4 separate regions of the Homo sapiens genome follow, and regions 2, 3 and 4 are each linked to region 1. Evidence: fine-mapped expression QTL. A gene starts in region 1. Each other region holds a variant in brackets. All regions are shown on one strand. Distances are from middle to middle.

Region 1 (6,509 bases):
TGCGCCTTGTTCTGGGCTATAAAAGTCTTGGGTGAGGAGGGCTGGGCACGGTGGCTCACGCCTGTAATCCCAGCACTTTGGGAGGCCGAAGCGGGTGGATCACGAGGTCAAGAGATTGAGACCATCCTGGCCAACATGGTGAAACCCCATCTCTAGTAAAAATACAAAAGTTAGCTGGGCGTGATGGTGGGCGCCTGTAGTCCCAGCTACTCGGGAGGCAGAGGCAGGAGAACGGCTTGGACCCGGGAGGTGGAGGTTGCAGTGAGCTGAGATCTCTCCACTGCACTCCAGCCTGTCAACAGAGCAAGACTCTGTCTCAAAAAAAAAAAAAAAAAAAAAAAAAAAAAGTCTTGGGTAATGGAGAAGAGCCCCATGGCCCAGACCTACTGTGACCTTAGTAATGATACAGGGGCAGATTTGGAGGTCAGTGAATGCACTCATTTGGGAGCCAGGCAGACTGTGAGCTCCCTGAGGGTGGGGCAGGTCTTGGTTATGTCTGTGGCCTCAGCATGTAGCACAGACAGACACAGCCTGGATGAGCTTATGGGATAGAGCTTATGAGTAGAGCAGGGAGGACCTTGAGTGCCACAGGTTATGGCTACTGTCCCGGAGCAGGTGTGTAACCTGACAGTAGTGCTTTGGAAAAAACAATGAGCCTGCAGAAAGATTAGAGCAAGGGCGGAGTCCAAGGCCGGGAAGTGGGTGAGAAGGCCTTCTGCCATCTCTGAGCTGAAGGCCTTCAAGGTTGTTGCAACCCTGTGCTCTTAGGTCAAGGGAAGAGAATCAGAAGGAAGGAGGAGGGTAAGAGTGAAAGAAAAGGGAAGAGAAGCCAGTGAACTCAGGGAGAAGTTTGTAACCAAAGGCCATTTGTTAGATCGGGAAGGGGTAGGGACAAGGACAAGGGACAGGTCAGAATTGCTGCTGTCCTGCCTGGGGCTGGAGAGAGGGGTGCCCAGGAGCAAGATGGCAGATGGGTCTGGCCCTTGCCCTGCCAGAGCAGGGTCATTCGGCAGTTTTTCTTGTTGCTCCCCAAGAAAACCCCTGCAGAGTCGAGGGAGCACAACCGGGACTGCATCCTCCTCGACTTCTTTGACGACCACGACATCTGGCACTTCCTCTCCTCCATCGCCATGTTCGGGTCCTTCCTGGTAAGCGGGCCTCCCGGCCGAGCCGGGTGGGTACGTGAAGGTAGCAGCTGCCTCCTTCTCTGTGGCTGATCTGGCGTCCACACCCCAGGTGTTGCTGACACTGGATGACGACCTGGATACTGTGCAGCGGGACAAGATCTATGTCTTCTAGCAGGAGCTGGGCCCTTCGCTTCACCTCAAGGGGCCCTGAGCTCCTTTGTGTCATAGACCGGTCACTCTGTCGTGCTGTGGGGATGAGTCCCAGCACCGCTGCCCAGCACTGGATGGCAGCAGGACAGCCAGGTCTAGCTTAGGCTTGGCCTGGGACAGCCATGGGGTGGCATGGAACCTTGCAGCTGCCCTCTGCCGAGGAGCAGGCCTGCTCCCCTGGAACCCCCAGATGTTGGCCAAATTGCTGCTTTCTTCTCAGTGTTGGGGCCTTCCATGGGCCCCTGTCCTTTGGCTCTCCATTTGTCCCTTTGCAAGAGGAAGGATGGAAGGGACACCCTCCCCATTTCATGCCTTGCATTTTGCCCGTCCTCCTCCCCACAATGCCCCAGCCTGGGACCTAAGGCCTCTTTTTCCTCCCATACTCCCACTCCAGGGCCTAGTCTGGGGCCTGAATCTCTGTCCTGTATCAGGGCCCCAGTTCTCTTTGGGCTGTCCCTGGCTGCCATCACTGCCCATTCCAGTCAGCCAGGATGGATGGGGGTATGAGATTTTGGGGGTTGGCCAGCTGGTGCCAGACTTTTGGTGCTAAGGCCTGCAAGGGGCCTGGGGCAGTGCGTATTCTCTTCCCTCTGACCTGTGCTCAGGGCTGGCTCTTTAGCAATGCGCTCAGCCCAATTTGAGAACCGCCTTCTGATTCAAGAGGCTGAATTCAGAGGTCACCTCTTCATCCCATCAGCTCCCAGACTGATGCCAGCACCAGGACTGGAGGGAGAAGCGCCTCACCCCTTCCCTTCCTTCTTTCCAGGCCCTTAGTCTTGCCAAACCCCAGCTGGTGGCCTTTCAGTGCCATTGACACTGCCCAAGAATGTCCAGGGGCAAAGGAGGGATGATACAGAGTTCAGCCCGTTCTGCCTCCACAGCTGTGGGCACCCCAGTGCCTACCTTAGAAAGGGGCTTCAGGAAGGGATGTGCTGTTTCCCTCTACGTGCCCAGTCCTAGCCTCGCTCTAGGACCCAGGGCTGGCTTCTAAGTTTCCGTCCAGTCTTCAGGCAAGTTCTGTGTTAGTCATGCACACACATACCTATGAAACCTTGGAGTTTACAAAGAATTGCCCCAGCTCTGGGCACCCTGGCCACCCTGGTCCTTGGATCCCCTTCGTCCCACCTGGTCCACCCCAGATGCTGAGGATGGGGGAGCTCAGGCGGGGCCTCTGCTTTGGGGATGGGAATGTGTTTTTCTCCCAAACTTGTTTTTATAGCTCTGCTTGAAGGGCTGGGAGATGAGGTGGGTCTGGATCTTTTCTCAGAGCGTCTCCATGCTATGGTTGCATTTCCGTTTTCTATGAATGAATTTGCATTCAATAAACAACCAGACTCAGTTCTTGGGGCCCTTGTTTGCACTCCCTCTGGGTGGAGCTGTTGAGGATGAGGGGAGAGGCGGAGGTCTTCCATTTCCCCATTCTTCAAGCCATGGCCCTACTGGGAACTGCAATTCCTTGATTCTCCCGTTTTTCCTGTCCCTCCAGCAACAGCATTAATTCAGTAAACATTTACCGGGGCACTGTGCTGGACAGAGGCCAGTTCCTGGAAAAGCCTTTCCCACGCCATCCCACTGCAGACATCCCTCCTTACCTCCCCAGGAACAGCAGTCTCTGCCCACCTGGCCCCGCCCACCAGACTGAGGCTCACTTCACCTCTGACCTGAGCGGCCCCCAGCTCACCAAGCCACAGGCCCAAGCAGTGCTCCCTGATGCGGCGTTTATAATCCGCTCAGCGTGCAGGCCGAGGCAGGAGGGTGATGAAAGCTGGGCAGGCTCCAAGAGGAGGGAGTTTTGATATGTCCCTGAAAGATTCATTTAGACTTCAGTCGGCTAAGGAGGACATGATTTGGGGGCCAAGGAATCTGTTGAATTCAGAACACAACCAGAGGTCTGCAGGGTCAGGGATGGAGGAGTGGGCTTTCCCCTCGCCAGGGCCCACTCCTCTTCCTGCTTTTCCTGCAGGCGCCACTGGGAGGTGCTATGGCTGTGCCTCCCCTGGGCTCTGGAGCATGTCCAGTTGCAGTGGGCAGAACTGCGGAGGCGGGCCCCTCCTCTGCCAGGCCTGGCAGCCCCCTCCTAGGGCCTTGTTTGGCTAGGGGTGGTGCCGGGTGTGGCAGTGTGTGTGTAGTGGAGAGTGTTAGGTCTTCCCTACCAGATGCCCTTGCAGGGGAGTGCCACAGCAGTCAGTCCAGGGATCCCACTGTTAGTCTCACCTTTTTTAACCTCTTATCTCTCCCCAAGATCCCTGAAGCCAGGTACGAGCAAGATGAGAGTGGGTTATCTCTGGAGTGACAGAGGCTGGTCTGTTTTCCAGGCTGGTAGGGACTGTTCCTAAAGGGAGGAAGGGATGATACCAGCCTCCTGAGCCTCCTTCTCCTGCGTTAGTGTCTCAGGCCCTGCCAGGCCTTATAGACCCTCTTATTGACACTGCCCACTGGATGGGGACCGGAGTTGGACTCAGCTTCTGCCGAACCCTCAAATCCCAGCCCCAACTAAAGCATATAACTCAAGACCTACCTGCACTGAAAGCTCTTCTCAACCTGAGCAGGGTGGTCCAATTGAAAGGGTGGGTCTGACCACCTCTCCTGCACCCATGCGGGTTGGCAGAGGTGTGCAGGATCTGCCACTTACCATTCACCATGTGGCCTTGAGGAAGACGCACTCGGGGCCTCAGTTTCCTCATCTATAAAATGGGGATGTAATTACACCCTCACACTGTAGCTGTGAGTATTCAATGAGAGCACTGCAAAGGGCCTGGTGTGGAGTAGGTCCTCAGGAAAGGTTGGATCCCATGTCCCATCAGAGCTAAAAGCCCCAGGAGGAGAGGGTGGCTGGTTTGTCCCCACAAACCCCTGGGATTCCCGGCTCCCCAGCCCCTTGCCCCTCTCTCCAGCCAGACTCTATTGAACTCCCCCTCTTCTCAAACTCGGGGCCAGAGAACAGTGAAGTAGGAGCAGCCGTAAGTCCGGGCAGGGTCCTGTCCATAAAAGGCTTTTCCCGGGCCGGCTCCCCGCCGGCAGCGTGCCCCGCCCCGGCCCGCTCCATCTCCAAAGCATGCAGAGAATGTCTCGGCAGCCCCGGTAGACTGCTCCAACTTGGTGTCTTTCCCCAAATATGGAGCCTGTGTGGAGTCACTGGGGGAGCCGGGGGTGGGGAGCGGAGCCGGCTTCCTCTAGCAGGGAGGGGGCCGAGGAGCGAGCCAGTGGGGGAGGCTGACATCACCACGGCGGCAGCCCTTTAAACCCCTCACCCAGCCAGCGCCCCATCCTGTCTGTCCGAACCCAGACACAAGTCTTCACTCCTTCCTGCGAGCCCTGAGGAAGCCTTGTGAGTGCATTGGCTGGGGCTTGGAGGGAAGTTGGGCTGGAGCTGGACAGGAGCAGTGGGTGCATTTCAGGCAGGCTCTCCTGAGGTCCCAGGCGCCAGCTCCAGCTCCCTGGCTAGGGAAACCCACCCTCTCAGTCAGCATGGGGGCCCAAGCTCCAGGCAGGGTGGGCTGGATCACTAGCGTCCTGGATCTCTCTCAGACTGGGCAGCCCCGGGCTCATTGAAATGCCCCGGATGACTTGGCTAGTGCAGAGGAATTGATGGAAACCACCGGGGTGAGAGGGAGGCTCCCCATCTCAGCCAGCCACATCCACAAGGTGTGTGTAAGGGTGCAGGCGCCGGCCGGTTAGGCCAAGGCTCTACTGTCTGTTGCCCCTCCAGGAGAACTTCCAAGGAGGTGAGGAGTGTGTGAACGCACCTGTGTTGGAGCACGGTGTCCCACTCTGGCGGGTCCCCAGGGCCTGAGCAGCAGCGATAGCCCTGTGACAATGTGAAGGGCCACAGAACTCTTGTATTCCAGTCAGGGGCAAAGAGTGGAGACGGAAGGCCTGTCCTTCTGACAAGCAGCCCCTTCCACTGTCTGACAGTGGGAGGTCACCCCCACTGTAGCAGAGGGGTGGGGGGCGGGTACTGCCAAGGAGGAGCTTTGGAGTGATAGGCGGGGCAGGCCTGGGACCCTTGGTCTTTCCCAAAGGGTGGTTCCCTTTCGAAGTTGCTATTCCAAAGGTAGCAGTGAGGATGGCACACATTTATGTAGCCAGGCCACTCCTGTTTGTCCGTGGAGTGGAGAGGAGCCACCCTCCTGCCCTCTCAGAGGTCCAGGTGTGCTCACTCCTATTTGGGAAGAGAGAAGGGGCACAGCAGCCCTGCAGGGGCCCCTGGCTCTGCTCGTGTTTCTGGGCTTCTGCTGGTAGGGGGTGCCACCTTCCCGTTTGACCCTGGACTTTCTTTCTCCACTGCCCACTTTCACCCACTGGGCAGCTCAGGGGAGGGGTCCTGGCAGGAGCCACAGGGCAGGAGGGTCCATGCCTGTCCATGCTGTCCTGGGAGTGTCTTGAGATGCCCCTGGGGGGGCCGCCCTGTAATCATCCTCCTCTCCCCCTCCCCACTGGCTCGAAGGCAGGACTCGGGAGGCTTCATCAGAGGACTCTAAAGGATTTCTGGGGATTCTCCACTTTTCGACCCTGACCCAGGAGGAGGAAGGGGAAGGATGGTGGTGCTGGGTGGGAGTGGGGATGGTGTGTGCTTCATCCCCCTCTGACCGAAATCCTAATCTTGTCTCTAGATCTGGGGGCTGCAGCGTTGTGTACCTGTCACCCTTAGCCTTGCTGCTTTGACCTGTATTGTCTGTTCTGACCCTCCTGAGACTGGAAGCTGGGGGTAGGGGACACACTCTCCTTCCATCCTGTTCCTCAGGAGCCCAGCAGGGGTGCAGAAGGGGAAGGCAGACATGAGGGCAGGTGGAGTGGGGGTAGAAGCAGGGCCAGAGACAGAAGGTGGATGCCTGTCTGGGATGGTGGTGCAAAGGCTGAGACAGAGGCTGGGGTGGATGGAAGCCAGGATGCAGGGCTACCAAAATCACCTGGTCCCAGCTGACTTGGGGGTTTGGACCACAGTTCTTTGTGCAGGAGTCCTTGGGTGGTTGGGGAGCGGGGGTGGGACACACAGGGTGAAGGGAGGGATTGGCTGTTTGTAGCTGAACAGCAGAACAGAGCACTCTGCCTTTGGGGTCTCTGGCATCACTGGCAGGGAGAGGGGTGGCTGGGCCAGGAGCCCACCTCATCCCCAGTGCTCAGAGAACTGGGTCCTCAGAAGTGGTCCTGCCCCCACTTTACACATAAGGA
Region 2 (8,019 bases), 59 kb before region 1:
TCTTGGGTATGTGTCGTCTTCCCAACTGCACTCGAAGCTACGTTGTAAACTTGAGAGCAGCAGCTCCATTCCATTTACTAGTATAGGCGAGGTCCCAGTTAGGGTTGCCGTAGATGTTTGTATGTGGCTTCAGTGAGCGTGTGTCTTTGTGTACGTGGGGGTGAAGTGAAGGCGTGTTTGTGGGCTGGTTTCCCAGCTGCCCAGCCTGACTTTCTACAGTCAGCAGGATGGACCTGGAGATGTCAGGGCTGAAGACCCTGGAGCATGTGGCAGTGACAGTCTCCATCACTCACCCACGGCGCGGCAGCTTGGAGCTGAAGCTGTTCTGCCCCAGAGGCATGATGTCCCTCATCGGCACCCCCGGCAGCATGGACTCGTATGTACACCTGCCCGAGGCCTGAGCAACCTTTTCAGCAAGGGCCTTTCCAGGGAAAAGAAATGGAAGAAGTGGATCCTGGCACTGTCCTAAACTACTGTGGCACTGGCTATCCCTGGCGGCTGGAAGCCTTTCGTCACATACCTTCTTCAAGCGCTAGGCCCTGCACCTCACATACATGTTCTCTAATCCTTCTAAGAACCCCCTAGATTAGACTTTGTAACCTCCTTTTACAAATGAGGAAACTGGCTGGGTGTGGTGGCTCACACCTGTAATCCCAGCACTTTGGGAGGTCAAGGCAGGAGAATCACTTGAACTCAGGAGTTCAAGACCAGCCTGGGCAACAAAGTGAGACCCTGTCTCTACAAAAAATTTAAAGATTAGCCGAGCATGGTGGTACATGCCTGTAGTCCCAGCTACTCAGGAGACTGAGGTGGGAGGATCACTTGAACCCAGGAAGTCAAGGCTGCAGTGAGCTGTGATCATGCCACTGCACTCCAGCTTGGATAACAGAGTGAGACCCTGTCTCCAAAAAAAAAAAGAAAGAAAAAGAAAACAAGTCATGGAGCTAGTAAGTGCCCAAGAGAACAAGAATAAACCTAGATCCGTGGGACTCCAAGCCTGTGCGCGCTCCATGCTTGCTTTTTCCACCACACCACGTTAACACAATTTCCTCCTTCCATGAGACCCCAGGGGAAAGGGGCACCTGAGAAGCCCTCGTGGCACCCTCCCAGGTTGTTTCCACGGCTACTACAGTAAGAAAGTGTTGCTGGGGGAAGGTCAGCTCTCTGGCCCACGCCTTCCACCTGTTTCTGCTGTGTTCTTTCCTCAGGGATCCCAACGGCTTCAATGACTGGACCTTCTCCACTGTGCGATGCTGGGGGGAGAGAGCCCGAGGGACCTACAGGCTTGTCATCAGGGATGTCGGTGAGTCTCGTGCCCTCACACCAGGCCCTACCTTTCCTGCTTGTTATCTGGTCCCTCTGCATCTCAGAGTCCCCACAGAAAGTGTCCCGTGTGCAATATATAGGGTTGCCATTGGACCAAGAGAGTTGATGCCAAGAGTGTGCCCATCCGTGAAATGGGCATTGCTCTCTGAAACTGTTCATTTATACTACCTCTCATATTCCCTGGAGGAGTGACCCATCCATCTTTCCTCAGGATAGCAACAAAAAGTCCTTGTCGAAACCACATTTCAAGTCCTTTTACGTATAACCATCCTTCGGCAAGCCCCGGTAGGCAGGTAAGGGCAGGACTCATTTCACCATTTTTTTTAAACTGGCCCAGAGGTTTGAGGTGACTTGTGGAAGGTCACCATATCAGTGAAGGCCACAATATCCATGAATTGTGAATATCTTTAGTATCAGCCTATAGACTGGAAATTGAGCTCCACCCTCCCATCCTCCAGTCAGTTAGGTATTCTCTAGGCCAGTGGTTTTCAAAGCTTTCTTTAATTTGGTGGAAAGACATTTTTTTCTAATCCCAGCTGAACCCCCAAAATACGGGAGAGAAAAGCAAGACTCTGCTTTGGAGTACAGCCTTTCAACCCTTTCCATCCCTAAGGGCACCCAGTGAGGCCCTTCTGCAGAACCTGGGGTCAGTGGGACACAGTGAGGCAGCTCCTGGAGCAGACCATGTGGCCTGAGCCCCTTTGGGTGGCAGGGCGGGCAGGGCCTCTGCTGTCTGGCATGGCTGACAGAGGGGCGTGGCTCACGAGCTGCCCCTTGCTGCCCTAGGGGATGAGTCATTCCAGGTCGGCATCCTCCGGCAATGGCAGCTGACCCTATATGGCTCTGTGTGGAGTGCAGTAGACATCAGGGACAGACAAAGGTGGGTAAAGCCGCATGTGTCAGAGGGAAGGCCAGTCACAGGGGAAGGGCTGCCTAGGGAGCCCATCGCCCTCTGAACCCCAGCTGTGCTTCCCAGTTCCAGCGTCAAGCTGGTAGATGGAGCCCCGGGCTGGGAACTCACAGTCTGGGCCTCTCCTTTTTGCTGTGGGGCTTCCCTGTCTTCACCTGTAAGGCAGGAAAATGGGTGAGGGCAGATGGTATAGGAACCATAGTCAGTGGGGCATCCTCACCTCTTTTCTTCTCCACAGGCTGTTAGAGAGTGCCATGAGTGGAAAATACCTGCACGATGACTTCGCCCTGCCCTGCCCACCGGGGCTGAAAATTCCTGAGGAAGATGGTTACACCATCACCCCCAACACCCTCAAGGTACTAGGGCCAAGACTCAAGCTGCGGGTAGATGGGACTGTCCTGTCTGGGGGATGGAGTTCTTAGTGTGTTTCTCAGGGTGACCTGCGGGGTGAAGGACTGGGAAGACCTGGGTCCCAGCAGTGGTTTCATAGCATTGCTCCTACCCTGCTAGCCTAACTCTTACAGGACAGGCCTTGTCGGGGGAGGGGGCAGAGGGAACAGTTTGGGTGAAAAAGGCAGTCCCTAGAAGGAAAAAGACTTTCTGAGCTCATTGTCCTGGACTGAGAAAGGCTGTAGGCTTCGGGAAACAGTGCCTCACGTAGGTGCTTGCCTCGGCCCCAGACCTTGGTGCTGGTAGGCTGTTTCACCGTCTTCTGGACCGTTTACTACATGCTGGAAGTATATGTGAACCAGAGGAATGTGGCTTCCAATCAAGTTTGTATGAGTGGACCCTGCCACTGGCCCTATCGAAGCCAGAAAGCCAAGGAGGAAGGGACAGAGCTAGAATCAGTGCCACTTTGCAGCAGCAAGGATCCAGACGAAGTGGAAACAGAGAGCAGGGGCCCTCCCACCACCTCTGACCTCCTTGCCCCAGACCTGCTGGAGCAAGGGGACTGGAGCCTGTCCCAGAACAAGAGCGCCCTGGACTGCCCTCATCAGCACCTAGACGTACCGCACGGGAAGGAGGAG[C/G]AGATCTGCTGACCTCAGGGCCTGACAGTGTGGGACAGGCTCTTCTTTCCCAAAATTAGGGAGCTCTTGACAGAAAGCAGTTCTGATGCTTACATCTGGAATCTGAGGCATCCTCTGACTCCACTCAAAGAGGGTGAGGGCCTTCTTAAGATACAAATGGCGGAGGATTGCTGCCAGAGAAGTCTGGTCAGAGCCACAGGGTCTGCCTCCAGCCAAACGGGAGCTTTTGGTGAGAAGGTGTTGGACAGGGGATTGGCGCCCCCTTTGGGTTGGCCTCCATCCTCTTTTTTTTTCCCCTTAACACTATCCGCCTGGAAATGGGCTGCCTCTCTTTTTTTTTTTTTTTTTTTTTGAGACATAGTCTCGATCTGTCCCCCAGGCTGGAGTGCAGTGGCGTGATCTTGGGCAAGCTTTTGTGTTCTGTGTCATTTTTTTTTTTTTTTTTGAGATGGAGTCTCACTCTGTCGCCCAGGCTGGAGTGCAGTGGCGTGATCTCGGCTTACTGCAAGCTCCGCCTCCCGGGTTCGTGCCATTCTCCTGCCTCAGCCTCCAGAGTAGCTGGGACTACAGGCACCCGCCACAACGCCTGGCTAATTTTTTGTATTTTTTAGTAGAGACGGGGTTTCACCGTGTTAGCCAGGACAGTCTCAATCTCCTCTTGATCTGACCTCTTGATCTGCCCACCTTGGCCTCCCAAAGTGCTGGAATTACTTGCGTGAGCCACTGCGCCCGGGCGCCTCTTTTTTTTTGAGGTGAAGTTTCGCTCTTCTTGCTTAGGCTGGAGAGCAATGGTGGATCTCGGCTCACTGCAACTTTTGCCTTCCAGGTTCAAACGATTCTCCTGCCTCAACCTCCGAAGTAGCTGGGATTACAGGCATGTGCCACCACGCCCAGCTAATGTTGTATTTTTAGAACAGACGTAGTTTCTCCATGTTGGTCAGGCTGGTCTCAAACTCTGGACCTCAGGTGATCCGCCAGCCTTGGCCTCCCAAAGTGCTGGGATTACAGGTGTGAGCCACCGCTCCTGGCTGGGCTGCCTCTTTAATACCATCATTTGAGTTCTCTAAACGTGAATTCTTTCTAAGAAAACCCTCAGAACAACAAATATTTACTGAGCACCTACAGGTATGCCGTATACTGTGTGAGCAGCTCCAAGAGAATTCCAAGGTAAATTCGCAATGTAAACATCATTTTATATGAGGACAAAATTATCTTGGATTATATATGCCTAAAGTAATACACACTTAGTGCCACTTGACAGCACAAGTTACTTGAAAAATTACTTGACATACAATATTAAACAGATCAACAAGACAGAAGGTTAACAAGGATATCCAGGACTTGAACTCAGCTCTGCACCAAGCAGACCTAATAGACATCTACAGAACTCTCCACCCCAAATCAACAGAATATACACTCTTCTCAGCACCACATCACACTTATTCTAAAATGGACCACATAATTGGAAGTAAAGCACTCTTCAGCAAATGTAAAATAACATAAATCACAACAAACTGTCTCTCAGACCACAGTGCAATCAAATTAGAACTCAGGATTAAGAAACTCACTCAAAACCGCACAATTACATGGAAACTGAACAACCTGCTCCTGAATGACTACTGGGTAAATAATAAAATGAAGGCAGAAATAATGATGTTCTTTGAAAGCAATGAGAACAAAGACACAACGTACCAGAATCTCTGGGACATATTTAAAGCAGTGCATAGAGGGAAATTTACAGCACTAAATGCCCACAAGAGAAGGCAGGAAAGATCTAAAATCAACACCCTAACATCACAATTAAAAGAACTAGAGAAGCAAGAGCAAATACATTCAAAAGCTAGCAGAAGGCAAGAAATAACTAAGATCAGAGCAGAACTGAAGGAGATAGAGACACAAAAAACCCTTCAAAAAATCAATGAATCCAGGAGCTGGTGTTTTGAAAAGATCAACAAAATTGATAGACCGCTGGCAAGACTAATAAAGAAGAAAAGAGAGAATAATCAAATAGATGCAATAAAAGATGATAAAGGGGATATCACCACCAATCCCACAAAAATACAAACTACCGCCAGAGAATGATATAAACACCTCTACGCAAATAAACTAGAAAATCTAGAAGAAATGGATAAATTCCTGGACACATACACCTTCCCAAGACTAAACCAGGAAGAAGTTGAATCTCTGAATAGACCAATAACAGGCTCTGAAATTGAGACAATAATTAATAGCCTACCAACCAAAAAAAAATCCAGGACCAGACAGATTCACAGCCGAATTCTATTAGAGCTACAAAGAGGAGCTGGTACCATTCCTTCTGAAACTATTCCAATCAATAGAAAAAAAGAGACTCCCTAACTCATTTTATGAGGCCAGCATCATCCTGATACTAATGCCCGGCAGAGACATAACAAAAAAGAGAATTTTAGGCCAATACGCCTGATGAACATTGATGTGAAAATTCTCAATAAAATACTGGCAAACCGAATCCAGTGGCACATCAAAAAGCTTATCCACCACAATCAAGTTGGGTTCATCCCTGGGATGCAAGGCTGGTTCAACATACACAAATTGATAAACGTAATCCATCACATAAACAAAACCAATGACAAAAACCACATGATTATATCAATGCAGAAAAGGCCTTCGACAAAATTCAGCAGCCCTTCATGCTAAAAGCTCGCAATAAACTAGGTATTGATGGAACGTATCTCAAAATAGTAAGAGCTATTTATGACAAACCCACAGCCAATATCATACTGAATGGGCAAAAACGGGAAGCATTCCCTTTGAAAACCAGCACAAGACAAGGATGCCCTCTCTCACCACTCCTATTCAACATAGTGTTGGAGGTTCTGGCCAGGGCAATCAGGCAAGAGAAAGAAATAAAGGGTATTCAATTAGGAAAAGAGGAAGTCAAATTTTCCCTGTTTGCAGATGACATGATTGTATATTTAGAAAACCCCATTGTCTCAGCCCAAGATCTCCTTAAGCTGATAAGCAACTTCAGCAAAGTCTCAGGATACAAAATCAATGTGCAAAAATCACAAGCACTCCTATACACCAATAACAGACAATAACAGAGAGCCAAATCATGAGTGAACTCCCATTCACAATTGCTACAAAGAGAATAAAATACCTAGGAATCCAACTTACAAGGGATGTGAAGGACCTCGTCAAGGAGAACTACAAACCACTGCTCAGTGAAATAAAAGAGGACACAAACAAATGGAAGAACATTCCATGCTCATGGATAGGAAGAATCAGTATTGTGAAAATGGCCATACTGCCCAAGGTAATTTATAGATTCAATGCCATCCCCATCAAGCTACCAAAGACTTTCTTCACAGAATTGGAAAAAACTACTTTAAACTTCATATGGAACCAAAAAAGAGCCCGCATTGCCAAGACAATCCTAAGCAAAAAGAACAAAGCTGGAGGCACCACGCTACCTGACTTCAAACTATACTACAAGGCTACAGTAACCAAAACGGCATGGTACTAGCACCAAAACAGATATATAGACCAACAGAACAGAACAGAGGCCTCAGAAATAACACCACACATCTACAACCATCTGCTCTTTGACAAATTGACAAAAACAAGAAATGGGGAAAGGATTCCCTATTTAATAAATGGTGCCAGGAAAACTGGCTAGCCATATGTAGAAAGCTGAAACTGGATCCCTTCCTTACACCTTATACAAAAATTAATTCAAGATGGAGTAAAGACTTAAATGTTAGACCTAAAACCATAAAAACCCTAGAAGAAAACATAGGCAATACCATTCAGGACATAGGCATGGGCAAAGACTTCCTGACTAAAACACCACAAGCAATGGCAACAAAAGCCAGAATAGACAAATGGGATATAATTAAACTAAAGAGCTTCTGCATGGCAAAAGAAACTACCATCAGAGCGAACAGGCAACCTACAGAATGGGAGAAAATTTTTGCAATCTACCCATCTGACAAAGGGCTAATATCCAGAATCTACAAAGAACTTAAACAAATTTACAAGAAAAAAAACAAACAACCCCATCAAAAAGTGGGCAAAGGATATGAACAGACACTTCTCAAAAGAAGACATTTATGCAACCAACAGACACATGAAAAAATGCTCATCATCACTGGTCATCAGAGAAATGCAAATCAAAACCACAATGAGATACCATCTCATGCCAGTTAGAATGGCGATCATTAAAAAGTCAGGAAACAACAGATGCTGGAGAGGATGTGGAGAAAGAGGAACACTTTTACACTGTTGGAGGGAGTGTAAATTAATTCAACCATTGTGAAAGACAGTGTGGCGATTCCTCAAGGATCTAGAACTAGAAATACCATTTGACCCAGCCATCCCATTACTGGGTATATACCCAAAGGATTATAAATCATGCTGCTATAAAGATACATGCACACGTATGTTTATTGTGGCACTATTCACAATAGCAAAGACTTGGAACCAACCCAAATGTCCATCAATGATAGACTGGATTAAGAAAATGTGGCACATATACACCACGAAATACTATGCAGCTGTAAAAAGGATGAGTTCATATCCTTTGCAGGGACATGGACGAAACTGGAAACCATCATTCTCAGCAAACTATCACAAGGACAGAAAACCAAACACCGCATGTTCTCATAGGTGGGAATTGAACACTGAGAACACTTGGACAAAGGGCGGGGAACATCACACACGGGGGCCTGTCGGGGACTGCGGGGCTGGGGGAGGGATAGCATTAGGAGAAATACG
Region 3 (8,019 bases), 390 kb before region 1:
CATTATTCGGGAGGAAGATAGGGATATTGATTATCTATAGACTTTGTTAGGTCAGACAAGAATATTAAAATTTTAAGGATAACCCATAAAACGAATAGAAAGAATGGATAACTTTTAAACTAGTATATGGGGAAGAGAGACTAAAGAGCATCCGATTGACTTCTAGTAACGGACGGTGGATTAATTGCATGCATTAGCCTCTGCTGTTCTCTGAAATCTCAATAACGTGGCATTGAAGTGCACTTTTTACAAAATGCATAAACCCAAAGGGAAAATAGAAAAGGAGACAAAAATAACAACATTTGGGAAGCTGGAAAGCTTCCAAATGATCAAACGGTGGTGACAGGCACACCTGACATGAATTTTGAAGCAGCAGTGGAGAAAGCCAAGAAGGCCCCTGATTTTCACTACTAAACTCTCCAAATGCTCTGACATTAGTGTCAACATTCTTCTGGAAGAGTGGGTGGCAGTGGGACTAGAAATATGGCAGTTGGTCGAGAGTCTGTTTGAGAAGCAGCTGTTCTCTTCAACTCTACTTGGCTGGGTACCCCCAAAGCAGCAGAAAACCAGATGCTTATTCTCTCTGAAAAGGGTAAAAGAGTGGGACTCCGGCCTGGAGAAAACTAGGTATTGTTGGGGGCCAGGGTTTTTGTGCTAAGAAAAATTAAGGAAAACTTTATACATTAAATTTTGAGGCTGGGCACAGTGGCTCATGCCTGTAATCCCAACACTTTGAGAAGGCAAGGCAGGAGGATCGCTTGAGCCCAGGAGTTCGATACCAGCCTGGGCAATGTAGCGAGACCCAGTCTCTGCAAAGAATACAAAAATTAGCCAGGTATGGTGGCACCTGTGGTCCTAGCTACTCAGGAGGCTGAGGCAGAAGGATTACTTGAGCCCACGAGTTAGAGACCGCAGTGAGCCATGATCATGCTACTGCTCTCTAGCCTGGGCGACAGAATGAGACCCCATCTCAAAAATAAATTTTTTTAAAAGACTCCTCAGTTCACCATCTTTCCCCATATTGAAAATGGAACAACATTCTCCCTGAGAAATTTGGCTGGCCCAAGGAAATAGGCCTAAAGAAACTGACTTTTGGGGGTTCCCTGCTCTCCAGATGGTCCCTCCTAAATTGAACCATGGACTCAGGATTTCACATCAGCTTCTTCTAATTTATGCAGCTTTCTTCTAATTTACTGTGGGGTTTTTTCGGTGTTTTTTGTTTTGTTTTGTTTTTTGAGACAGGGTCTTGCTCTGTCATCCAGCTGGAGTGCAGTGGTGTGATCATAGCTCACTGCAGCCTCAAACTCCTGGGCTCAAGTGATCCTCCCACCTCAGCCTCCTAAGTAGCTGGGGCTACAGGCATGACCACCACACCTGGCTAACTTTTTAATTTTTTGTAGAGGTGGGGGTCTTGACATGTTGCTCAGGCTGGTCTTGAAATCCTGGCCTCAAGCGATCCCCCTGCCTCAGCCTCCCAAAGTGCTGGGATTTCAAGCATGTGCCACTGTGCCTGGCTAAGAATACTTAAAGGTGAAGTGAGAAGTTCACATGATGTCATATCAGGAGGTACACAATGGCTACTTGTCCCACTAATAGCAATCCTTAGTTTTTTCACTTCGTGAGGTGGTCACTAGCAGACCTCTTGGTTGGAAAGATAGGTTATTTCCCTTTGTAATTAACAAGTAACAGAATTGGGATACTTTGGCATCTTAAAATACCTTGGCAACCTGATGAACATAGCATACATTCAAGATTTTTGCCTGAATTAATTATTACATTAGAAGAGTTGCAGAATGAGAATGTTCTAATTCTACTATTTCTTTTATATATTTCAGCTGATGTTATTCTATGAAGAAAAGCTCCCTCATCAGTGAAGATGAACTGCACTTCTTTCTAAAGAGGCAATGTCAGACGGGCACGGTGGCCTATAATCCTAGCACTTTGGGAGGCCGAGGAGGGTGGATCACCTGAGGTCAGGAGTTCGAGACCAACCTGGCCAACATGGTAAAACCCTGTCTCTACTTAAAATACAAAAATTAGCCGGGCATGGTGGCACATGCCTGTAATCCTAGCTACATGGGAGGCTGAGGCAGAAGAATCGCTTGAACCTGAGAGGCAGAGGTTGCAGTGAGCTAAGATTGTACCACTGCACTCCAGGCTGGGTGACAGAGTGAGACTCTGTCTCAAAAAAAAACAAAACAAAACGAAACAAAAAAACAGTTGACAGTAGTTGTTTTTGTAGAGTGAAAAATAGAGGTGGGGGTTGAGATACTGCTGCTATTTTAAACTAACTTGTAGATCTGTTTGACTCTTTTTTAAAAAACAATTTTTTGGAGAGATGAAGCCTTGCTATGTAGCCCGGGCTGCTCTCAAACCCCTGGCCTCAAGTGATCCCCCTGTCTCGACCTCCCAAAGTGCTGGGGTTACAGACATAAGTCACCACACCTGGCTCTGTTTGACTCTTTATGTGCAGTTTGAACTTTTTAACTGAATTTTTTAAAAGGTGTGAAATTAGTCTTTAAAGGAACACAAAACCAACAGAGAAGCAAGCAGGAAGATACAAGAAGCAAAGAAATATCATAGTAAAATGAAAATACAAAATAATATGACATAAATAAAACAGTAATCACTATCAAATTAAATAGATTAAGTGAGCCCACAAGGCATTGTCTCTGGGACTAGTCCGCTGGGTCGAAGTCCTGCCACTTATTGGTTCTGTGACCTTTGGCAAATTAACTTCTCTGTGATTCCATTTCTTTCTTTTGTTTTCTTTCTTTCGTTTTTTTTTTTGAGACAGAGTCTCACTCTGTCACTCAGGCTGGGTGCAGTGGTGCAATCACCAATCACAACTTACTGCAGCCTCCACCTCCTGGGCCCACGCGATCCTCTCACCTCAGTCTCCTGAGTCCCTGGGAACACAGACATGTGCCACCCTGCCAAGCTAATTTTTAAATTTTTTGTAGCGATTGGGTCTCACTATATTGCCTAGGCTGGTCTCAGACTCCTGAGCTCAAGTGATCCTCCCGCCTTGGCCTCCCAAAGTGCTGGGATTACAGGCATGAGCCACTGCACCCAGCCTCAAACTCTGTAAAAGGGGAATAATGATAATACTTGCCTCATAGGGCTTGTGGGAAATAATGCTTTATTACTGTAGGTTAAAAAGCACACAAACATGCTTGACACAGTAGGTGCTACATCAGTTTACTATTGTTGTTGTTTTCAGATTGGATTTTATAAAAACTCTACTTA[T/C]TTGCAATTTATAAGAGGCATACCTAAAATATAATGTCAGAGAAAGGTTAAAAAGTGGAGCCAGGGAAGGAATTTAAGAAGACATACCAGACCAATAGTAATCAAAAGAAAGCAGGTATGCAATGTAACATCAGAACAAATAAGCTTTGCTTATTTGGATTGATAGGGATAGATAGGATTGATAGGGATAAAGCAGATCATTATTTAATGATCAAAGAAGAAATTTGGCTGGGCGTGGTGGCTCACACCTGTAATCCCAGCGCTTTGGGAGGCCGGGGCAGGGGGATGGATCACAAGGTCAGGAGTTTGAGACCAGCCTGACCAAAGTGGTGAAACCCTGTCTCTACTAAAAATACAAAAAATTATCCGGGTGTGGTGGTGCATGCCTGTAGTCCCAGCTACTCAGGAGGCTGAGGCAGGAAAATCATTTGAACCGGGGAGGCAGAGGTTGCAGTGAACTGAGATCGCACCACTGCACTCCAGCCTGGGTGACAGAATAAGACTCTGTCTCAAAAAAAAAGAAAAAAGAAGAAGAAGAATAAATTCACTGGGAAGATAAAACAATTCTGAACCTGACAACATAGTCTCAAAATACGTAAAGCAAAAAGCCACTGAGTCCCAAAGAGAACTTGACAAATTTGGTAGGAGATTTTAATACCATTTCCTCAAACTGATGGAATCACAGAAAAAAAATATAAGAACAAGTCAGCAAACTTGATATGGAAAGAACAGCATCCCCACCTGAGAGTCAGCAGCCTCCATGCAGGAGGACCGAGGGGAAGCCAGGGAGCAGGGCAGCCTGAGCCAAGGCCAAGCCCAGTTGAGGACAGGAAGTGGAAGGAGGCACCTAGGAAGGCTGAAGATGCAGAGGAGTGTGTTCCAGAGGCAGTGGGAAAACTGGGAGGGAATAGTTCTCGGGATGTTGGATAGAGAGAATAAGCAAAGAACAATGCAGGAAGAAGAGTGGGGTGGGAGGCCGTGACCTTGCTAGAGAGCCTTATGTTTTGGGCTATGACCAGGGCTGACAGAAGTGTGAGGCATGGCGGGTTCAGAAGAGAGATCAATGATGCATCGCACATCTCTAAAGCTGATGAAGGCAGCAATTGGCACTGAGGCCAACCTGGTTGGGACTCAGAGAGGTGGGACACATATTGTGTGCCAGGCACCCTGCCACATCTTGGAGAGAATAAGACACAAACCCTCATCTAGTGGGTTGGGGAAATGATGCAGGGCTCAGTGTGGCTAGCGCGTTGGGGTGGGAAGCAGCCTGGGCACGCCCACAAGGCTCTCTGCCTTCCAGAATCTGGCCCAGTTGGGTTTGAAAAGATTTAATGACAATGAGCTCTCTATGGACCTACCTTGTGCCCAGTATTTACCTTTCTTATCTGTAACGCTCAAGTCAATACTCTAAGGTAGGAATTGTTATCCTCATTTTATTTACAGAGAAACTGGAGTTCAGAGAGATTCTTGCCCAAGGTCTTGCCCTGGGCCAATTCCAGGTCTATCTAACTCCAAAGTCCATGCTCAGTACACTGTCTCCTGCTTGGGAGCAAAGAGAGGACTTTGCTCCTAAGACCAGACCCATACCACAAAGAGCCTCAACACTTAACTACTGGGAGAAAACACCGTCCTAAGTAAAAAGCCAGGTGCTCTTCCCCTTACCCCAGGGGGTTTAGGATTTGGGAGAAAGAGGCCTGATGGAATATAGGGGTACCAGGTCCATGTGTTAACTGATCTGGGTACAAGAACAGTAACTCAAGGCCAGCCAGGGAAAGAACAGCCAAGCCGAGGCACAGCTGCCAAGTCATCACCTCTCGTTCCTTGTCCCACCATGCCTTGTCTCAGCACGAACATAACCCCCTCAGTTTCCCTCTTCTCCTGTCTCCTGCATAGGCAGAACCAGTTCTGAGTGATAGCCAGGACAGCAGGTCCTCGGGTCCTCAGGCTTGCCACTACAACCTGTTTACCCTGCGCAGACCATGATCCATCAGGTCGAGAAATGCCCCACTGCTAGATGTTTGTGTCAAAAATGCCTGCCGGTGGTGCAACAGCTGGGTGGGACCAGTGACGTGGACTTGAGTGCCACAAAATGTACCGAACACATTCTGAGTCAACATAGTGATGGTGTGCCAACTCCAGATAAAGATTTTCATTATTATTTGTTTGGGTTTTGTTTATATGTACTCCTCTTCATCACCAAAGATTTGAGGCTACAGAAAATGAAAATTGAAATGGTAATAAAAGAGAGGGGCTTGCAGAGAGGACCACAGGATGGGGAAAATAGAAATAATCGCAGAAAATCATGACCCGATGAAGAGCACAATCATAGAAGCACTAACAGATGACAAGGTTGCCAGATCTTCACCATTGGTTTTGGGTTTCGTGAAAACCCGCGAAGAGAGGGATTCAGTCAATTACATATTTTTTTTCCTTCTTTCTTTTATTTTTATTTTTTATTTTTTCTTGAAATGGAGTCTCATTCCGTCACCAAGGCTGGAGTGCAGTGGTGCAATCTTGGCTCACTGCAGCCTTCACCTCCTGAGGTTCAAGCCATTCTCCTGATTCAGCTTCCTGAATAGCTGGGACTACAGGCATGAACCACCATGCCTGGCTAATTTTTGTATTTTTAGTAGAGACTGTCACACGCGAGACAGGGTTTCACCATGTTTGCCAGGCTCTTGAACTACTGACCTCAAGTGACCCGCCCACCGCAGCCTCCCAAAGTCCTGGAATTACAGGCATGAGCCACCGTGCCTGGCTTGTTTTAATTTTTTATTATAAACAACACTGTGATGAACATCCACATAGCTAAATGCATGCATTCCATGATCATTTTCTTAAGATAATTTTTTTCTTATTATTTGTGTATTTATTTATTTATTTTTGAGACGGAGTCTTGCTCTGTCACCCAGGCAAGAGTGCAGTGGCACAATCTCGGCTTACTGCAACCTCCACCTCCCAGGTTCAAACAATTCTCCTGCCTCAGCCTCTTAAGTAGCTGGGATACAGGCACAAGCCACCAAGCCCAGCTAATTTTGTATTTTTAGTAGAGACAGAGTTTCGCCATGTTGGCCAGGCTGGTCGCCAACTCCTGACCTCAGGCAATCGCCTGCCTCGGCCTCCCAAAGTGCTGGGATTACAGGCGTGAGCCACCTCACCTGGCCTTAAGATACATTTTTGAAGGGAAGAACATTTTCTGTCCAAGTACATTCCTGTTCACAAACCCTTTTCCATAACACTGGAGACTTCCTGGGGAGGTTGGAACCAATGGCTTAGACTCCAAAGGAATGAATGTACCATAAAGCTTTCAGCAATCTTCTGTCAATGCTACTTGTATAGACTTCCAGACAAACATTGAAGATTGAATGCATGCATCTAATTTCACTTTTTTTTCCTGAAATCCTCCTGAAACTATAATGAAGAAATGTTTGGGAAAAGATGTAGCCAGGCACTGTGGCTTATGCCTGTAATCCTAGCACTTTGGGAGGCCAAGGTGGGCAGATCGCTTGAGTCCAGGAGTTTGAGACTAGCCTGGGCAACATGGCGAAACCCTGTCTCTACTGAAAAAATACAAAAAATCAGCCAGGCATGGCAGACCTGTAGTTCCAGCTACTCAGGGGGCTGAGGTGTGAGGATCACTTGAGCCTGGGAGGTAGAAGCTGCCGTGAGCCCTGATTGTGCCACTGAACTCCAGCCTGGGCGACAGAGTGAGACCCTGTCTCAAAAAACAAAAAAAAAAAAAAAAAAAAAAGAGACGGGATCGGGAAAAGGAAGAAAAGACCACAGCACAATTTTGGATGTTAGAAAGCAAATGGACCAGTTGTGACTGATTTAGCCGGCCTTGGGAATGCTGGTCATGAGCTGGCAGTGAGAAAAGATGAGTTCCAGCCTGACTTACACCGCTGGATTCTCAAAAGGCGAAGAGATGATAGTAGGGCTCCTGCCAGCCCACGCTGCACCTGTGTGTGCAATAGAAACAGCCTCCCCTTTCTCAAGACACTCTACAGCCGTCTGCCAGAAATTTGACATGATAAATATACAAATCTGTCATGTCTACCCTGTGAGGGAGGTGGCCTCAGAATGATACAGTGCACAGCTTGCACAGCCATATATGACTGTCCTGAATTGGGACACCAGTTTCTACTGAAAGTAGAGGTGACGGAGGAGGCTGTCATAAAACATGAAAGATTGGTTGAAACTATTTAAGGAGCAGTTAGAGCTTTAGCTTCCCTGTCTCACCTTAGTAGAAGACTGGAAGTTTATTCTCTTGAACGTCAGGCAGAGTTGAGGGCAGGAGACCTGTACTAGCAAGAGGATTAAATCAAAGTATACCCTCTGAAATGCTGAATCACCCTCCTGCTTCTTCCACTTGGCCCCAGGGACACTGTATTCAGGCCTTTACCCTCCAGGCAGAAGAGTGAAAGACATTTCTTAGGGGAATATGTCCAGCTCAAGAGGTAAGACCCAAAGATTTTCACAATGGGGTTCCCCAGCTAAACATCTCAGTGGATCACCCTGCAGTGACATTCATAGTCAATAAGTACTACGCACGTATTGGAGCTTCAAATCACCTTTAAAATCTCCCATTCTTTTCTTTTTTCTTTTTGAGACAGAGTCTCGCTCTGTCACCCAGGCTGGAGTGCAGTGGTGCGATCTCGGCTCACTGCAAGCTCTGCCTCCCGGGTTCACGCCATTCTCCTGCCTCAGCCTCCTGAGTAACTGGGACTACAGGCACCTGCCACCACGCCTGGCTAATTTTTTGCATATTTA
Region 4 (8,019 bases), 310 kb after region 1:
AGACGGCCAGAACACCATGTTTCCATTGAGGCCAGAGCCAGTGGATAGAGACATAGTGAAATCAGGCAGGAAGGTTTAGTTCAGGCAAGAAGACTGTCTCTCTCAGTAAGGAGGAATTTAGATAATGGAGCAAGTTACTAAGGCAGGTTAATTCATTAATTAACTAATTCATCTAATATTTATGAAATGCTCCTCTGTGAAGGCATTATGCTCCGTGTGGGCTGGGGAAAGTAGAAACACACTTCAGCTACAGACGGAGCCTCGGGGAGCTTCTCGTTTACTAGGGAAGGCAAGATACTTCCCCAAAGATGATTAGACAAGGACCGCCTGGATATACAGATGCTGAGCTCAAGCAGAGGGCGATGCCATCGGCTGGGGGTGACTGCAGCTTCATGGAGGAGTGGAATTTGAGCTGAGAGTTAAAGGACACACATGCTTTCAAACAATACATGGGGTGAAGGAGACGGAGGAGGCTGAGCCAAGGGGCTGTCATTCCTTCTGGTCTTCTGAATAACATCAACAGCTCCGAGAGGCCACTGAAGAAGAAGTAGCCAACATCCATCCTGGGGAGTTAAACATGCAGCTGGGCTGGTCCCGCGCTCCCAGAGGGCTGTTGGGAGGCAGATGACCAGATGACCTCCCAGAGGCCCAAGGCAGGCTCCTCGCTCCTCTCCAACCCTGCTTCTGGGGGATGGGCAGGTGCGATGCATGGCTGGTACTCCAGGCTAGCCACTCACATCCGGTCAATACACACACCGGGCAGCCTGGAGGGGGAAGAGAGCCCAGGGATCATGGCTCCTCCACCAGCTCATTCGGTACTAGGAGTGCTGTGAGTGGGGTCTCCAAAGCAGGGTGGGGACTCCTCCATATATGTACATGGCTGTCCAAATGGGGCTTGCCTTCTGACCTGTGAGTCAGCGGCGCCCTCTCCAGTGCTCAGGGCTAGTAGCTGCATGTGTGCCTGGCCATTTCCATTTCTGGGAAAGCCATCCTCCCGGAGGTGGGGTCTGACCCCCTGCACCCTGGTGATGACCTGGGCCCTCTTTACTGTGGAGTCCAGCCTACAGATCTGCCCCCGAGTCCCAGCGTGTCCCTAGCAGGCAGCTGGATGTAGGGGGCATGAATGCCTCACAACCCAGGGCTTTCTCCCCAGAAGCCCTGCTCTGGCCACAGTCATCTTTAGCAAGGTGCTGCAATGGTGAAGAGGCAGAGGCCTGAGTGGCTGAGAAGACACAGTGGTCGAGGCAGGCCATTCAGTGTCCAGTCACCATAAAGCTTTTATGGCCACTTGTTTGGGAGTGCTGCACAGAGGAAGGCGTGCTGACCACCAGCCCAGCTCAGAAACATTTAATGGTGTCTCTCATCATCTCTCTTTGAGATGGAGCCTTTTATTTACTGCACCTGCTAGCAGAGTGTGCGCCGTGGGAAGTCTGGGCTTCTTTGCCCTTGCAGCACGGAGATGGGGCACTAGCCATGCCTGGAACCCAAAACACCCGGTTCCAGACTCTGCTACCCATTTAAGTGACTGTGGGCAAGGCACCTCCTCATCACCATCCAGTCTAACCTCAGTTTTCTCATCTGCAAAATGGAGCGGTTGAACCAACTAATCACTAAAGTCAGACACTGATTTTCTAGTTAAAACAAGTCCCATATTTTGGGAATAATGACAGCTGACTTAAGTTTTTACACAACCCTCTCTTCTCAGGAAGCCCATCCCAGATCGCCTTATTTGAAATTGCAAACCCCGTCTCCTTGGCACTCTCAGCCTCTCTCCTGTTTGACAGGAGACATCTCTGGGGTATTTACCGTAGGATCCCTTTCCTCACTAAAATGTAAACTCCCTGATGGCAGGGATTTTTGTCTATTTTGAGCATAGCTGTATTCATAGAACCTAAAATAGTGCCTGGAATCTAGTGGAGGCACAGTAGATGTCACTGAATGAATGACATTCGTGGTCATTATCCTCATCACCACTACCATCGTCATGAGCCCTGTCTGTCCCACGGGAGTTTGCTTCCTCCTTTGTTACTGGCTCCCTTGGCTGAGGAAGTAAGGTTGTTGGCAGTGGCTTCCTTGGTGTTCCTCCCCCAAATGGCATGCAGGCCATCTCCTCCTAGGGAGCCTGCTGTGCCCCTTTCCTGTGGATCCCAGTGAGGTTCCTCCCAAATCTCCACCTTCACCAGTAGCAGGCACTTGGCCAGGTGGCTGACTCTCCCTTAAGCTTATCATCATAGAAACCCCCAACCTACTCGTTAGGGTGGGAGAGGGTCTCTGGCACATGCTCCCAGGCATACGGCAGAGGCTGGGTGGAGCAGTGCTGAAGCTCAGCATTGAACAGCTAGGGAAAAATTAGGGAGGGAGGAGGGAACATGGGCATTTGGGAGAGAGGGTGTTTGTGTGTGGGTGAGTATGTCCCTCTTCCACTTGTCCTCCACAGAAGCCTGGCACCACCTCCCTGTCCTGGTCCTGCTGAGCATGGGCAGAAAGCACCTCTTGGCCTTGTTTTGGCTCAAGAAGCCCTCGGAAGCTCAGATGTAGGAATGGAGATGTTTCTTCACGGAGCCAATGCAAAGGGGCCCCAGTTGCAGCCCTGCCTTCCTAGTTAATTAAACATTCAGCCTGCATGCCCAGAGATGCTTTTGTGCTACATTATTTTTCAGCTACAGGTGGCCCTAAAGTCACCAAATCTAGGTTTGATCTGTGTGCTCTCCTCTTAGCATCCTGCCAAGGATTTCTCCGGATGACCAGAGACAAATACCAGCCATCCCTGCAGCCTGGCTCTCCACTGCCAGCCAGTGTCACATATGCCAAGGCACACACAGCCTTCAAAGCACCCTCCACCCTCTCTCCTCTCTGCTCCTCCCACTTTACTGGAACACAGCAGGCTCCCTTGGGCAATATTTCATATGGTCCCACCTGCAGCCACTTTTTGGGCTCAGGAATGTTGCCTTACGGGAGGGCCCTGGTGGACAACACACTTGCGTATGTGTAACTGCTGGCATGCATGTTTACGTATGTGTGCTCAAGTGTGAATGGGCTAATGTGTTAATTGGCTGCACGTGCATGCAATACGTACCAGGGTGCACACGCACGAGTGCTCACACACAGGTCTCTGCACACATGTGCAGGCATGTTGGGCGTGTGCTGCTGTTCGCAGCTTAGTGTTAGAAAAATTCGTTAGAAGACAAGCAGTCCCAGAAGGAATGGAGTCAGCAGTTGTTTTTCCGGCTCATGGAGCAGCATGGGTTTCAGCCCCACCCTGCCCACTGACCCTTGGCCCCACAGAGAGCTGGGGTGGGAGACTTCCAGTTTTATCTCACACTTCCGGTGCTCTGTCCCCACCATCCCTGCCCCCGCAACTTGCCCTTTTCTACTTTCTAGCTCTCTGCTCTGAACCTTGAGTGGGATGCACTTCCTAGTCGGGCAGCAGCAGTGGGGTCTGGAGAGCTGCCCCCAGGCCCACACCCTTCTCCCCCTCCAAGTCAGGGCCCCCGCCATGCCCACGGGCACCTCCTCCACCCCCCTCCTTGGGTAGTTCTTGGAACAGCGCATCCGCTAATCAAGCAGCGTGATCATAATCAGCTCTGATGGTTCTTCTGCAAAAGCGCATTCTAATGAGGTGGGAGAGGGAGTCAGGGAAAAAATGGGGATGAGGGGGCCTGAGCTTTTGGAGTGGTGGGGGCACGTCCCAGAGCCCCTCACACCCATGCTGCTTCTTGGTCCAGAGAGAAAACAGGTGACTACACCCGCCTCAGGGCTGGATTTCTGGGATTTTTTCAGACCCTGAGGGTGGGGAAGGGGGAAGGTGTGCATGCAAGCGTGTGTACACACACACACACACACACACACACACACACACACACACACATGCCTGCTATGCACAGCTTATGCTGGGTGCTGGGGACTCACACGTGGCCAAGGCATGGGCTCTGTCCTCTAGGATCACACACACACACACACACACACACACACACACACACACACCCCTCCCCTTCCCCCCACTTCCCTCCCTCTCCCTGGGCTGCAGAGACACTGTCGCTCAGCACCATCACAACAGGCCCAGCGAGTCGCCGAGACGGAATGCATCAGATTCAATTCATTAGGACTGATCACTCCCTGAATGGGGCTGAATAATTGATGAGCAGAAGCAGCTTTCAGGACGTTCCGAGTCCTCTGAGGCCCGCTGCACCCGTTATTATTTTTTTTAAGCCAACAAACCCGACCAAATGCTTGCCAGTGAGGGCTGGCGCAGGGAGTGGAGCAAAGGTTAGATGTTTTAATATGTGATGTTTACACTTAAACTCTCGGTCCACTGCTTGTAAGGGAAATGGATACAGGCGGCCCGGCCCGTGATGCTGCTTAAAGGAGGCAGGTTGAGCTGTGTACACAGCCACCAAGCTGATTTGTCCCAGATGACAGGGGCGGGGATGTGGGCTGGGGGTTGTTAGGTCCCTGGTGGTACGGCAAGGCCCCTGGGCTGGGCAGAGAAAGTGGCCAGGATGCCCTTCCACATGGCTCCCTCGCAACAGCAGGGAAATGGGTGTTTGGCTGTGAGGGTCTCCTCTCTCCTCCCAGACCTCAGATGGCCACGGTGAGGTTTCCTAGTAAGTTCTCAAAGTAGACTTTGACAGTCCACTTTCATCCGGGAGCGGTGGCTCATGCCTGTAATCCCAGCACTTTGGGAGGCCAAGGTGTGTGGATCACCTGAGGTCAGGAGTCCGAGACCAGCCTGACCAATATGGTGAAATCCCATCTCTACTAAAAATACAAAAATTAGCTGGGCGTGGTGGCGTGCGCCTGTAGTCCCAGCTACTCAGGAGGCTGAGACAGGAGAATTGCTTGAAACCAGGAGGAGGAGGTTGTAGTGAGCTGAGATCACGCCACTGCACTGCAACCTGGGTGACAGAGCAAGACTC[T/C]ATCTCAAAAAAAAAAAAAAAAAAAAAGTCCATTTTCCTGGGCTCAAAGTGAGGTTTCCTAGTAAGTCACTCCAACTCAGCCTAATGTCTCAGTTTCAGTTCAAAGCACACACTGTCTGGCACTGTGATGGGTGTTGGGCACACAGGCTTGTGACTCGGCTCCTGTGCACTGATGGCAGGAGCTGGGGGAGAAGTCTCCACCCAGCCTTCCACTGCCACGTTCAGTCCTTCCAGCTGGCCACCAGGCCCTTCCACCGGATGTCCAGTGATATCACATGCTTGAGGGTCCTCCACAAACCCTTCCTCTTCCCATATGTCCCTCTTGCTGCCGATAGTGTGTGTGTTCCATGTTGCTTCCAGTCTTGGGCAAAGCAGCAGCCAGGGGGTCCCCAGGGCCTTCCCCCCATGCCAGAGCCCCTTCCCAGGCCTGGACCCCTCTTCTCTTTTTCTTCCTTCCATGGGCCTCCTGCTAGCTCTCCTCCCCTGGTCAACGCTATTCCTCCCTCTCTTCCCTTGGGGATACAAAGGGGGTTCTCCCCAGCTTCCCCTCCCCACTGCCCTGGGTTGTGACACAGATGCTCAGGAGAGGGAAGCCCCCAGGTGACAGGGCCCTCAGAGTTCTCAAGGACTCTTGTCTCTTCCACACCCTCCCTGGCAGTCCCAGAAGCTCTATGTCTTTATTCCTAAGGCAGAGCATGGAGCAAACGGTCCTCCCTCCAGCCTGTCCTTTCCCTGGCTCGGGGCCATTCTCGGTTGGAGCCCAGGTTCTGGAGTTATGCAGACCTGGGAAAGATTCTGACACCAGATGGCAATTTACTTAACTTTTCTTTTCTTTTTCTTTTTTTTTTTTTTTTTTTTTTTTTTTGAGATGGAGTTTCACTCTTGTTGCCTAGGCTGGAGTGCAATGGCACGATCTAAGCTCACTGCAACCTCCACCTCCCAGGTTCAAGTTATTCTCCTGCTTCTGCCTCCCAAGTAGCTGGTATTACAGGCATGTGCCACCACGCTCTGCTAATTTTGTATTTTTACTAGAGACAGGGTTTCTCCACATTGGTCAGGCTGGTCTCAAACTCCTGACCTCAGGTGATCCGCCTACCTCGGCTTCCCAAAGTGCTGGGATTACAGGCGTGGGCCACTGCACCCGGCCTTTCTTAACTTTTCTATGCCTCCACTTTCTGCCCCGAAAACTGGGGAGGAAATGTTACCTGCCTTAGCTGAGTGGGCAGCTGTGGGGTCGAAGATGGCACTGCACGTGGAGCATGGAGCAATGTGAGAGGCACACAGTGCGCCTGCCGCAGTGACAGTGGCAGATCATTATAACCATCGCAGCCTGCTGCGATAGCCCAGGATGGTGGCTGGAGACCCCCAGACCTCCCTTCCTCCCAGGCGGAGCCCCAGGCTGAGGTCTTCATGCTTCTGTAGCCTCAGGCTGCAGAGGACAGCCTGTCCACTTATCCTCCCCAGGCCTGAGCCCATCCTGGCTCTTCACGAAGAGACATAAGCTCTTCAGCCATCACAGCCGTGGCTGACTCAGTACCCAACCCCTGTAGCCTGGTTTTCACAGGCTTCTCCTTAGTCAAGCCTGGGGGTATCCACCTCCCCAGCCTGGCCCCAGAGAAACCAGGCCACCCTCCTGTCACACACCATCCAGACAGTCTCCAGGTCTGTCAGTCCCAAAGAATGTATTTGGGGGTTTCGAAGACCTTCGCAGCCCCAGAACCAAGGAGACATTGTCATTGACTCACATGCTCATGTATTTGAACATTTATATTCACTCATTCATTTGATCCACAGACTTAGTGAGCGGCTACCCAGGACCAGGCATGAAACAAAGACCTCACCCAGGTGGATGTCAAGGGCCCAGGAGGGACGAAGCTTTTTTTTTTTTTTTTTTTTTTTTTTGAGACAGAGTTTCAACTCTTGTTGCCCAGGCTGGAGTGCAATGGCTCAATCTCGGCTCACTGCAACCTCTGCCTCCCAGGTTCAAGCAATTATCCTGCCTCAGCCTCCCAAGTAGCTGGGATTACAGGCACCTACCACCACGCCCGGCTAATTTTTGAATTTTTAGTAGAGACGGGGTTTCATCATTTGGGCCAGGCTGGTCTCAAACTCCTGACCTCATGATCCACCCGCCTCGGCCTCCCAAAGTGCTGGGATTACAACGTGAGCCACTGTGCCCGGCCTGAGGGAGGAGGCTTTTAAGCACCACACAGCACTTTCCAGGCCTCAAGCAGTACTAGCAGGTGGAAGGGTGTTCCCAGTCCTGTAGAAGCAGCCTGGGTACTGTGTATCCCACAGGGGGTCAGGGCTCCCAGCGTGCTCTGTCAACCCTGGCCTCCTGTTGCTTGTGGCCTCCTTGTGTGGGCCCGCTGAGCTCCTGGGGGCTCCATCCCAACAGCAGAGGCCCCATGCAGCCCATCTCTGACCTGGCCTCTCTCCCAGAAGGCAGCCTGCCTCCTTTATCTGTAACTCACCCTCTCATGCACCTGGGGTGTGTGCTGTCTTATTCTGCAGCCCGAGGAGGACCCCGGATGTAGAGGAGCTCATGGCCTGCGTCCACCCACAGTCTTCTGCCCTGCTCCCTTTTTTCTGAATGCCAAGCTGGGGCCTCTCTTGCTCAGCCTTCCGTTCACCCAGGATTGCCTATTGTTGTCTGAGTCCCAGCTGGGGAAAGGCCCACGCATCCTGGGTGGTCAGGCGGGCAGGGGCCCTGGCTGGTGAGGGAGGCCTACCTTTGACGGCTACGTGAACGCTCTGGCTGATGGAGAGCTGGGGCTGGATGAGGACACTGCACAGGTACTCCCCCTCATCCATGCCCTTCTGCACGTCAGTCAGCTTGAGGGTCCCATTCTCAAACACCACCTGGCGGTGGTTGTCTGGCAGCAGCAGGGCATCCTTGTACCACTTGATGGAGTAGTAGGGATAGCCGATGACCCTGCAGTTGATAAGGGTGTCCCGCCCGGCGACTGCTGTGATGTTCCGCATAGCCCGGATGCTGGGTGGGCCTGGGCAGGAGTCAGAAGAGAGGAGGAGGAGGAGAAGGGCATGTGCTGCTGTCAGCCAGGGACAGCCAGGCACCACCCTGCGGTGCTCTTCTCAGGCA

The links.
Region 2: its variant is fine-mapped to the expression of TAGLN in whole blood (TOPMed, PIP above 0.99).
Region 3: its variant is fine-mapped to the expression of TAGLN in whole blood (TOPMed, PIP above 0.99).
Region 4: its variant is fine-mapped to the expression of TAGLN in naive CD4 T cells (Schmiedel 2018, PIP 0.91).

Annotation. Positions count from the first base shown.
Region 1 is chr11:117,194,768-117,201,276 of GRCh38, forward strand. TAGLN (transgelin) reads left to right here and starts at 4,603. Exons shown (of 5, transcript NM_003186.5): 1 at 4,603-4,665. SIDT2 (SID1 transmembrane family member 2) reads left to right here. Exons shown (of 26, transcript NM_001040455.2): 25 at 1,035-1,148; 26 at 1,237-2,675. The coding sequence ends at 1,299. LOC100652768 (a long non-coding RNA gene) reads right to left here. Exons shown (of 8, transcript NR_045215.1): 2 at 5,084-5,145; 3 at 3,970-4,021; 4 at 3,552-3,669; 5 at 3,019-3,140; 6 at 2,463-2,637; 7 at 2,241-2,379; 8 at 846-1,267. RefSeq lists enhancers at 1,328-1,827, 3,160-3,823 and a silencer at 3,226-3,520.
Region 2 is chr11:117,135,311-117,143,329 of GRCh38, forward strand. It overlaps the pseudogene LOC653303. Among named protein-coding and RNA genes, the nearest start is that of PAFAH1B2, 5.0 kb to the right of the region's middle. RefSeq lists an enhancer at 2,419-3,304. The variant C/G (reference allele first, on the strand shown) is at 3,265.
Region 3 is chr11:116,803,774-116,811,792 of GRCh38, forward strand. No RefSeq gene overlaps it. Among named protein-coding and RNA genes, the nearest start is that of LNC-RHL1, 6.4 kb to the right of the region's middle. The variant T/C (reference allele first, on the strand shown) is at 3,250.
Region 4 is chr11:117,508,819-117,516,837 of GRCh38, forward strand. It overlaps DSCAML1 (DS cell adhesion molecule like 1), which reads right to left. Exons shown (of 33, transcript NM_020693.4): 8 at 7,649-7,921. Among named protein-coding and RNA genes, the nearest start is that of CEP164, 180 kb to the left of the region's middle. RefSeq lists enhancers at 2,602-3,585, 6,338-6,937. The variant T/C (reference allele first, on the strand shown) is at 4,917.